2 separate regions of the Homo sapiens genome follow, and region 2 is linked to region 1. Evidence: fine-mapped QTL for protein levels in blood plasma. A gene starts in region 1. The other region holds a variant in brackets. All regions are shown on one strand. Distances are from middle to middle.

Region 1 (5,000 bases):
CACAGTTGTCCATCCATGGCTGTTAGGAAAGTCTTTATATGGAAACTCAAAAATGCCTTCTGGAAAATTCATTTCTCTCTGCTAGTTCTGTCTTCTGTTAGCCTTTTACAATTAATCTAATCTTTTGCATTTGTGTATCCTGGTTGCTTGCAAAGAAAAAAGTCAGGCCAACCTTGATACCATGAGGAATTCATTATTTACACTCTTTACCTGAGTCTCTTGCTGGGTCTCTTCCACTGCTTTGTTAATAAGTACAATCAAGTATAGGTCCTAAACCTCCCCCAGTTCAGTGTGCAACTGTTTACCAATAGGAAAATAATGGAATGTCTAGGAGAGAACCCTAGATAGCAGTATTTTTTTCTTATTATTCAGAAAGAATGTAGAGAATATTATATGTCATTTAAAATGATATGACTTTTGGCTGTTTTATTTTGAGTTTATTAATGAGGTACAACCTCTGTTTTATTAGTTTTGGCAGTATTCAGGTTACTCTATTTTTAAACCCTTTAAAAATATTAAATCTTCTTCTCAGGAATACTCAATATTTCCCTGATTTAGACCAGTTTTGCCAGTGTTTTCCACTCATGGAAAGCTTTGGATTTTGGTTTCAAGTCTCTCTTAATCAGAGTAGTGTTTGGAGTATTCTTCCAGTGCTACTGCTATTACTAATAAATCATAGTAGCCTAGAGCTAAGAGAGGTCTTTGAGACTTTCCCCCCATGGCCCTCTTTTACTGAGAAAAAGCAGAGGCAGTGAGCGTCCAGAACTGGCTGGAGGTGGTGGAGCTGAGGGCTGGCTTCCTCACTGCTTGTTGGTTGTGCTTTGCACTAGACTGCATGTCCTCCTAAATGGATTTTAATCTCATAGTTACTTCCAGACAGTAAACAGACTTTCCTCTGGAAAAGCCTAGGTAAGGAGGTTTGGCCAAGTTCTTAAAAGAGTTCATAACATATGGACTGGAAATAAAGCTTAAGAAGCACATAAGCTTTCTTGTTTCCATTTAACTGGTCTACAAACTTAGAAAGTTTATCTAAGTGAAATGGTATTTCCTCTCAGACACTATTATTAGGTAAATAAGTCACTGTGCTTTTAAATCCCATGTTTAAAGGCCCGCTTGGCAACTTTTCCCCTGGGTTTAAACATGCCTATCAGTTCACAGGTACCAGTAGCAGATTTCAGCATATAAATGTGATATAACATACTCCATATATTTCACCGAAGGAATCCAAACCAAATTCAGATGTAATCAAGGCATAGTCTTGTAAGCTAACAAATGAGTTAAAAGTCCAACATGCATTTGGAAACTTATTCACAGTACCATTTGTTCATGGATACTGATAAAGATAGCACTTTCCTTAAAAAGTAGTTAATTTTACCTTAGAAGTATAACTAGCATTCTGACAAAGCATTCTAGCTGTTCTTCCTTTTATACTAATTTTGCCCTTCATTAATTTCTCCACATGTCTAGCAATCAAGCTACTGTCTTAAAAAACAAAATCTACTGCCTCTCCATTTTTATGATGTTTCCCACAGTGCCTCAAGACTTGTGCTTGTAAAGTTAATTGTTTTTGTCTCAAACCTCAGATCAGTTATCAGAATATTTGTTTTTAATTGAGTAGTTAGTTGTAACAGAAGACTATATATCCTCTGTTCTTTCCACTACTACACTATACTCCTTAATGCCAAAAAACAAACTAAAAACATCAGGATCCTTTTATGTGTGTGGGCTTGTGCTCGATTTTTCTTTCTTTTTTCATTTCTTTCTTTTAACAGCTTGATTCTTGGATTTAAACAACTTTATTTTTAGGGAAATACAACCCCCTCAGGTTCTTTATGACTCAGTCCCTACACCATGTGGCCACTGTTTCCTGGGTGCCACACCTCTGAATAGATTAACATGAAAGAATGCTGTGCGCTATTTAGATTACTAGGGAGTAGAATATTGAATACATTGCTTAAATTTTTTAATCTAAAATTTAATCAGAAATTTACTTTGGGAGTAGACAAAGGAAATCTTTGAAAGTGTTAAATTCTGACTGTATACATGCTGTGAAAATTTCCTAATCTTTCATATTGAATATAGTGCTAGCTAAACTATTGCTGATAAGTATTCTTTCTTGGAATTGAATAGATTTCCATTTGAACTTTTCAGTGCCATTTCATTATAATAAGGAAGACATTTATCAAGGAAAAAAATGAATATTCAAATGTATAAGTAAAATTGACATTTCAGTAATTCACACATTTTAAATACACATTAGAAAATATTTTAAATATTGAAAAATATATTTACTGTTTCATTTAATATAGCTGTGATATCCCCAAACTTCATGATCATTATTATAGCAATGTTATTTTCCTAGATAAACATACAAGATGTTTATTTAGATGACTTTTAAAATCAATCATGTTAACATTTATGGTAAGGCATAATGACAGGTTTTCACTTAGCTGAAAAAAAAAGTCACATAATTATATTTAAAATACATTCATTATAGGTAAGACATAAAACTAGAATAATTTTAGGTACAAATTTAGGTTTGTATTTAAATGCTGATTTTTAAGAAATTATAGAGATAAACTTTGGACTTTATCCTATTATTTATAAGCATTTATTAATAACATTAATGTCTCCTTAGTATTGACTGTAAAGTATACATCGATACTTGTAAGATAGACATGAAACATACCTGTCAGAAGAGAGTAGTCCTCCTAAAAGTAGAAGTTATCCACCATGTACTACTTATCTATAATGTAAATGTTCTCAGACACTGTGTAAGAAGAAAAGATGAGGAGGTATTACATTTAAAAGAAAAAAAACACCCTTCAACACAGTCCTGGTGTGGCTGCACCCTGGGTGATACTGGAATAAACTGCTCCCACAGATTAGTCCATGTTAGTACTGAGGAGCAAGATTAAAACTTGTTACTGCTCATGTGTTTTCCATCACTGTTTGTATCGTAGCCAAGACTTCTAGCTAAACTCTAGACGTCTACTGGAAGATTCTGAAGAAGAAAAAAAAAGAAAGTTTAATAATGCATGGCAACTGGCCATTGAAAGTGCAGTCGGAGTCATTCAAGAAATACCTAGTTTTAAAAATATTAGATTCTTAAGTGAATGAATATTTGTAAATTACAATTTCAAAAATTACTCAACCTGTATAGACTAATAAAATATTTATCAATCTGAATAAAGGATACCAACATTACTGAAGTATATACCCAAACTTCAGATGTACCTGAGAAAGAACCATACTTTTTTTTTCTTCTAATGACTGTAGCTATTGCATTATGCATACTTCTCCAGACTTTTTTTTTTTTTTAAGCTTTTAGCACTGCTATAGCATGTCAGGGAAACTATGGATGAGGCTCCATGAACTGCTCCCTGGACTCAACATATGTGATATAACACAGACACACATGCATGTCCAAGTAACACCCTCTTAGGATGCATACAACTTTCCCTTTTCAAGAGAATATTAGCTATGGCCTCACTGACATTTAGGGAGACTTAGAGCAGGGAAGATGCTATTTCCTGAAAATAAATCATTATTTGTACCCCCTTTCCACTCATCCCCAAGAGACTGCCCAATTCTACATCAACTAAGACCTTCAAGAGAGGACAGTTTTCTTTTTTTTTTTTTTGAGACGGAGTCTCACTCTGTCACCCAGGCTGGAGTGCGGTGGCGCAATCTTGGCTTACTGCAAGCTCTGCCTCCCAGGTTCACGCCATTCTCCTGCCTCAGCCTCCCGAGTAGCTGGGACTGCAGGCGCCCGCCACCACGCCTGGCTAATTTTTTGGTTTTTTAATAGAGACAGTGTTTCATTGTGTTAGCCAGGATGGTCTCGATCTCCTGACCTCGTGATCTGCCCGCCTCGGCCTCCCAAAGTGCTGGGATTACAGGCATGAGCCACCATGGCCGGCCTGAGAGGACAGTTTTCTAACCCTAGTGGCAAGGACTTACTGTTGTAAGTGACCCCAATGGTTCTTCCCAACTGTTGTATAGATTTGGAGGCCAGCAAAGAGCTTTTCCAGTGGGTTAGAAGACCTGTTCTCTACTGTCATCAAGAGTCTGACCATCGTTTGTTCCCTCTCTCCAGAGAAATGGCACACATTGTGTTAAGCAAGGCAGCTACAGTCCTAAAGAATACATGTGCCTCAGATGTGCATAGCAGCTGGCTATGTGTTCATCCTCCCCTCACTTAAATAAAGTACTCCTCCTTGGACCTCTAGGCTGACAGTTCCAGGCAGCTCGGTAGTCCCATTAGTGGCCCTCTGTAACTCAGGCCCCATCCTAGCCCTGCAGCACCTTAGGGAATGACGGCCCTCCTGTTTGGTTTAGAATGCTCATATTCTCATTTATTCAAGTATATTTCAGTTGCAAATGTATCTGTTAACTGGATGAATTGGGAACATAATGAAAATATGAACTGGATTTTTAAAATCTTTGTATCCAGAGCATCTAGTGTTTGCCTAAATTCCTTCAGAACACAGTCATAAACAGGAAGCCCTTGGGTCAAATTCAGTTTGTCCTGCACAATGTTTTGTTTCTGAACTGTTTATTGAAGTGTATGTTACCAAAAAAAAACATATCATAATGGTACAACTCAATTAATTTTTACAAAATGACCCCAATCAAGAAATCCCAGCCTCACACTCCATTCTCATACATCCAGAATCCCTCCTCTTACTCCTCAAGTCACAGCCTGAGTTCAGCACCATAGGTTATTTCCTGAACTTTATATAAATGGAATCATACTGTGCATTCTCTTTTGCATCTGGCTTTTTTCATTCAGTGACATGCTTTTGAGATCCATTCGTGTCATTGTGATACACAGTAGTTCATTCTTGTCACTGTATAGTATTCTCATACATGAATAAGCCACAAATTGTTTATATATTCAACTAGATTAATTACCTTTTGGAGAGGTACTATGAACGTTCCTCAGTCTGTCATTTGGGGGTCATGTGTATGTATTTTTGTTAGGTGAAATTGCTGTA
Region 2 (5,000 bases), 30 kb before region 1:
ATAAAATCAGCTATTATTGTTTAATGTTATTTGTATAAGATAATTTTGGGAAAATAGATTAAGGAGAATTGTTAGGTCAGCCACAACAGATTAAGGTCCATGTGAATAGAAAGGTAATACAGACTGAGGTAAGGCAATTCTTTCTTTTTATTATTATTATTATTATTATACTTTAAGTTTTACGGTACATGTGCACAATGTGCAGGTAAGTTACATATGTATACATGTGCCATGCTGGTGTGCTGTACCCATTAACTCGTCATTTAGCATTAGGTATATCTCCTAAAGCTATCCCTCCCCCCTCCCCCGACCCCACGACAGTCCCCAGAGTGTGATGTTCCCCTTCCTGTGTCCATGTGTTCTCATTGTTCAATTCCCACCTATGAGTGAGAAGATGCGGTGTTTGGTTTTTTGTTCTTGCGATAGTTTACTGAGAACGATGATTTCCAGTTTCATCCATGTCCCTACAAAGGACATGAACTCATCATTTTTTATGGCTGCATAGTATTCCATGGTGTATATGTGCCACGTTTTCTTAATCCAGTCTATCATTGTTGGACATTAGGGTTGGTTCCAAGTCTTTGCTATTGTGAATAGTGCCACAATAAACATACGTGTGCATGTGTCTTTATAGCAGCATGATTTATAGTCCTTTGGGTATATACTCAGTAATGGGATGTCTGGGTCTAATGGTATTTCTAGTTCCAGATCTCTGGGGAATCGCCACACTGACTTCCACAATGGTTGAACTAGTTTACAGTCCTACCAACAGTGTAAAAGTGTTCCTATTTCTCCACATCCTCTCCAGCACCTGTTGTTTCCTGACTTTTTAATGATTGCCATTCTAACTGGTGTGAGATGGTATCTCATTGTGGTTTTGATTTGCATTTCTCTGATGGTCAGTGATGGTGAGCATTTTTTCATGTGTTTTTTGGCTGCATACATGTCTTCTTTTGAGAAGTGTCTGTTCATGTCGTTCGCCCACTTTTTGATGGGGTTGTTTGTTTTTTTCTTGTAAATTTGTTTGAGTTCATTGTAGATTCTGGATATTAGCTCTTTGTCAGATGAGTAGGTTGCAAAAATTTTCTCCCATTCTGTAGGTTGCCTGTTCACTCTGATGGTAGTTTCTTTTGCTGTGCAGAAGCTCTTTAGTTTAATTAGATCCCATTTGTCAATTTTGTCTTTTGTTGCCATTGCTTTTGGTGTTTTAGACATGAAGTCCTTGCCCATGCCTATGTCCTGAATGGTAATGCCTAGGTTTTCTTCTAGGGTTTTTATGGTTTTAGGTCTAACGTTTAAGTCTTTAATCCATCTTGAATTAATTTTGGTATAAGGTGTAAGGAAGGGATCCAGTTTCAGCTTTCTGCATATGGCTAGCCAGTTTTCCCAGCACCATTTATTAAATAGGGAATCCTTTCCCCATTGCTTGTTTTTCTCAGGTTTGTCAAAGATCAGATAGTTGTAGATATGCGGCGTTATTTCTGAGGGCTCTGTTCTGTTCCATTGATCTATATCTCTGTTTTGGTACCAGTACCATGCTGTTTTGGTTACTGTAGCCTTGTAGTATAGTTTGAAGTCAGGTAGCATGATGCCTCCAGCTTTGTTCTTTTGGCTTGGGATTGACTTGGCGATGCGGGCTCTTTTTTTGGTTCCATATAAACTTTAAAGTAGTTTTTTCCGATTCTGTGAAGAAAGTCATTGGTAGCTTGATGGGGATGGCATTGAATCTATAAATTACCTTGGGCAGTATGGCCATTTTCACGATATTGATTCTTCCTACCCATGAGCATGGAATGTTCTTCCATTTGTTTGTATCCTCTTTTATTTCATTGAGCAGTGGTTTGTAGTTCTCCTTGAAGAGGTCCTTCACATCCCTTGTAAGTTGGATTCCTAGGTATTTTAATCTCTTTGAAGCAATTGTGAATGGGAGTTCACTCATGATTTGGCTCTCTGTTTGTCTGTTATTGGTGTATAAGAATGCTTGTGATTTTTGTACATCGATTTTGTATCCTGAGACTTTGCTGAAGTTGCTTATCAGCTTAAGGAGATTTTGGGCTGAGACAATGGGGTTTTCTAGATATACAATCATGTCATCTGCAAACAGGGACAATTTGACTTCCTCTTTTCCTAATTGAATACCCTTTATTTCCTTCTCCTGCCTAATTGCCCTGGCCAGAACTTCCAACACTATGTTGAATAGGAGTGGTGAGAGAGGGCATCCCTGTCTTGTGCCACTTTTCAAAGGGAATGCTTCCAGTTTTTGCCCATTCAGTATGATATTGGCTGTGGGTCTGTCATAGATAGCTCTTATTATTTTGAGATACGTCCCATCAATACCTAATTTATTGAGAGTTTTTAGCATGAAGGGTTGTTGAATTTTGTCAAAGGCCTTTTCTGCATCTATTGAGATAATCATGTGGTTTTTGTCTTTGGTTGTGTTTATATGCTGGATTACATTTATTGATTTGTGTATATTGAACCAGCCTTGCATCCCAGGGATGAAGCCCACTTGATCATGGTAGATAAGCTTTTTGATGTGCTGCTGGATTCGGTTTGCCAGTATTTTATTGAGGATTTTTGCATCAAAGTTCATCAAGGATATTGGTCTAAAATTCTCCTTTTTTGTGGTGTCTCTGCCAGGCTTTGGTATCAGGATGATGCTGGCCTCATAAAAAGAGTTAGGGAGGATTCCCTCTTTTTCTGTTGATTGGAATAGTTTCAGAAGGAATGGTACCAGTTCCTCCTTGTAGCTCTGGTAGAATTCGGCTGTGAATCCATCTGGTCCTGGACTCTTTTTGGTTGGTAAGCTATTGATTATTGCCACAATTTCAGAGTCTGTTATTGGTCTATTCAGAGATTCAACTTCTTCCTGGTTTAGTCTTGGGAGGGTGTATGTGTCGAGGAATTTATCCATTTCTTCTAGATTTTCTAGTTTATTTGCATAGAGGTGTTTGTAGTATGCTCTGATGGTAGTTTGTATTTCTGTGGGATC[G/A]GTGGTGATATCCCCTTTATCATTTTTTATTGCGTCTATTTGAATCTTCTCTCTTTTCTTCTTTATTAGTCTTGCTAGGGGTCTATCAATTTTGTTGATCCTTTCAAAAAACCAGCTCCTGGATTCATTAATTTTTTGAAGGGTTTTTTATGTCTCTATTTCCTTCAGTTCTGCTCTGATTTTAGTTATTTCTTGCCTTCTGCTAGCTTTTGAATGTGTTTGCTCTTGCTTTTCTAGTTCTTTTAATTGTGATGTTAGGGTGTCAATTTTGGATCTTTCCTGCTTTCTCTTGTGGGCATTTAGTGCTATAAATTTCCCTCTACACACTGCTTTGAATGTGTCCCAGGGATTCTGGTATGTTGTGTCTTTGTTCTCATTGGTTTCAAAGAACATCTTTATTTCTGCCTTCATTTCGTTATGTACCCATTAGTCATTCAGGAGCAGGTTGTTCAGTTTCCATGTAGTTGAGCGGTTTTGAGTGAGTTTCTTAATACTGAGTTCTAATTTGATTGCACTGTGGTCTGAGAGACAGTTTGTTATAATTTCTGTTCTTTTACATTTGCTGAGGAGAGCTTCACTTCCAACTATATGGTCAATTTTGGAAAAGGTGTGGTGTGGTGCTGAAAAAAAAGTATATTCTGTTGATTTGGGGTGGAGAGTTCTGTAGATGTCTATTAGAGACTTAGACTCCCACACAATAATAATGGGAGACTTTAACACCCCACTGTCAACATTAGACAGATCAGTGAGACGGAAAGTTAACAAGGATACCCAGGAATTGAACTCAGCTCTGCACCAAGCGGCAATTCTTTCAAAAAGGGATTGAATTGTGAATGAAAGAGAAATAGTATGGTAGCTTAAGGGAAACGAAAATTGAAATTTTTTAAAAAAAGCTTTTGGAATGCTGGGTGTGGTGGCTCACGCCTGTAATCCCATCTACTCTGGAGTCTGAGACAGGAAGATCACTTAAGCCCAAGAGTTTGAGACCAGCCTGGACAATTTGTGGAAAGACCTCATCTCAGGAAAAAAAAGAAAAAAAAAAAGTTTTTGTTTTAGTGACTTCTAAATACCTCATAATAGTTAAAGAAAATCACTTCAGTAATTTAGTCCTTCATAAACCCAATAAATAGTAAGTCACTTGTTTTCAATCTTTAATGGATTTTTCCAGTGGGTAATATTTTGTATTCACCAGAAAATGTGTTTTTGGCAGTAAATGTTAATGCAGTTTTGGTTGTTTATGATTTTTATTAGTGATTTGTTTTTTGCAAACTTAAAACCAAAAATGGCTAACAGCTGGAAGATTGAAAATACAAACATAAACCTCAGTGAATTAATTGCAGGGATTTCAAGAATCATTTCCAGTATTTTAAAATTTTGGTTTTGTCTTTTCTTTTTGTAAAAAGATTAACTTGGCTACTTTAAGCTCCACTATTCAGATCATAGATAAATCTGTCTTTTATTCTAACCTTAGTATTTACCTTATGATTTTAATGATGAATTTCAAGATGTTGGGTTTTTTCAATGTCAGTAAACATTTTTTACTTTTACATATGTTCTTATAAGTGCCATGATATCACAATTTTTTGTTACATTGTAGAAAAATTTATTTTGTTTATTAAAGCAATTGAAACTTTAGAATATTTTAATTTTTGAGTGATTATTATAGTATTGTTTTCTTTTATCTTTAAGGACTTCATGATCTTTTATTTTTCTTTGTAAATGTTTATGGTTTACAAAGCATTGCATATATATTTTTATCATTTATTCTTCATAGCAACCTTGTTCAGTGTTGTCACCCCTACCCTTTATAGGTGAGGAAGCAGGCTCAGAGAGGTGGTAACTTGCCCAAGACTATAAATGGAACTGGATTTCCAAGGCAAAGTTCTGCAACCCGGGACACTGCTGGTTCTAGCACTACTGGTGGTGAACATTTATTATTAAAATCATACTATCATCATCCCTCTACTCATACCATGGTCTTCCCTCTTTTTTTGCTCAAAAAAGTAGC

Which allele goes with the higher level. Alleles are on the strand shown, and positions count from the first base shown. The strength of an association depends on the size of the effect and on how common the allele is.
As copies of G replace A in region 2, the plasma level of the protein whose gene starts at base 2,903 in region 1 goes down (weak association).

Evidence for each region. PIP is the posterior inclusion probability: the model's chance that the variant is causal. The UK Biobank Pharma Proteomics Project read protein levels with antibody pairs (Olink). The fine-mapping took linkage between variants from a reference panel, not from the people measured, so its PIPs are less certain.
Region 2: its variant is fine-mapped to the plasma level of the ASPN protein (UK Biobank, PIP 0.99).

Annotation. Positions count from the first base shown.
Region 1 is chr9:92,479,604-92,484,603 of GRCh38, forward strand. It overlaps ASPN (asporin), which reads right to left and starts at 2,903. Exons shown (of 8, transcript NM_017680.6): 1 at 2,690-2,903. All of the region lies in intron 5 of CENPP (centromere protein P), which reads left to right.
Region 2 is chr9:92,449,944-92,454,943 of GRCh38, forward strand. The region is part of intron 5 of CENPP (centromere protein P); the gene reads left to right. Among named protein-coding and RNA genes, the nearest start is that of OMD, 28 kb to the left of the region's middle. The variant G/A (reference allele first, on the strand shown) is at 2,993.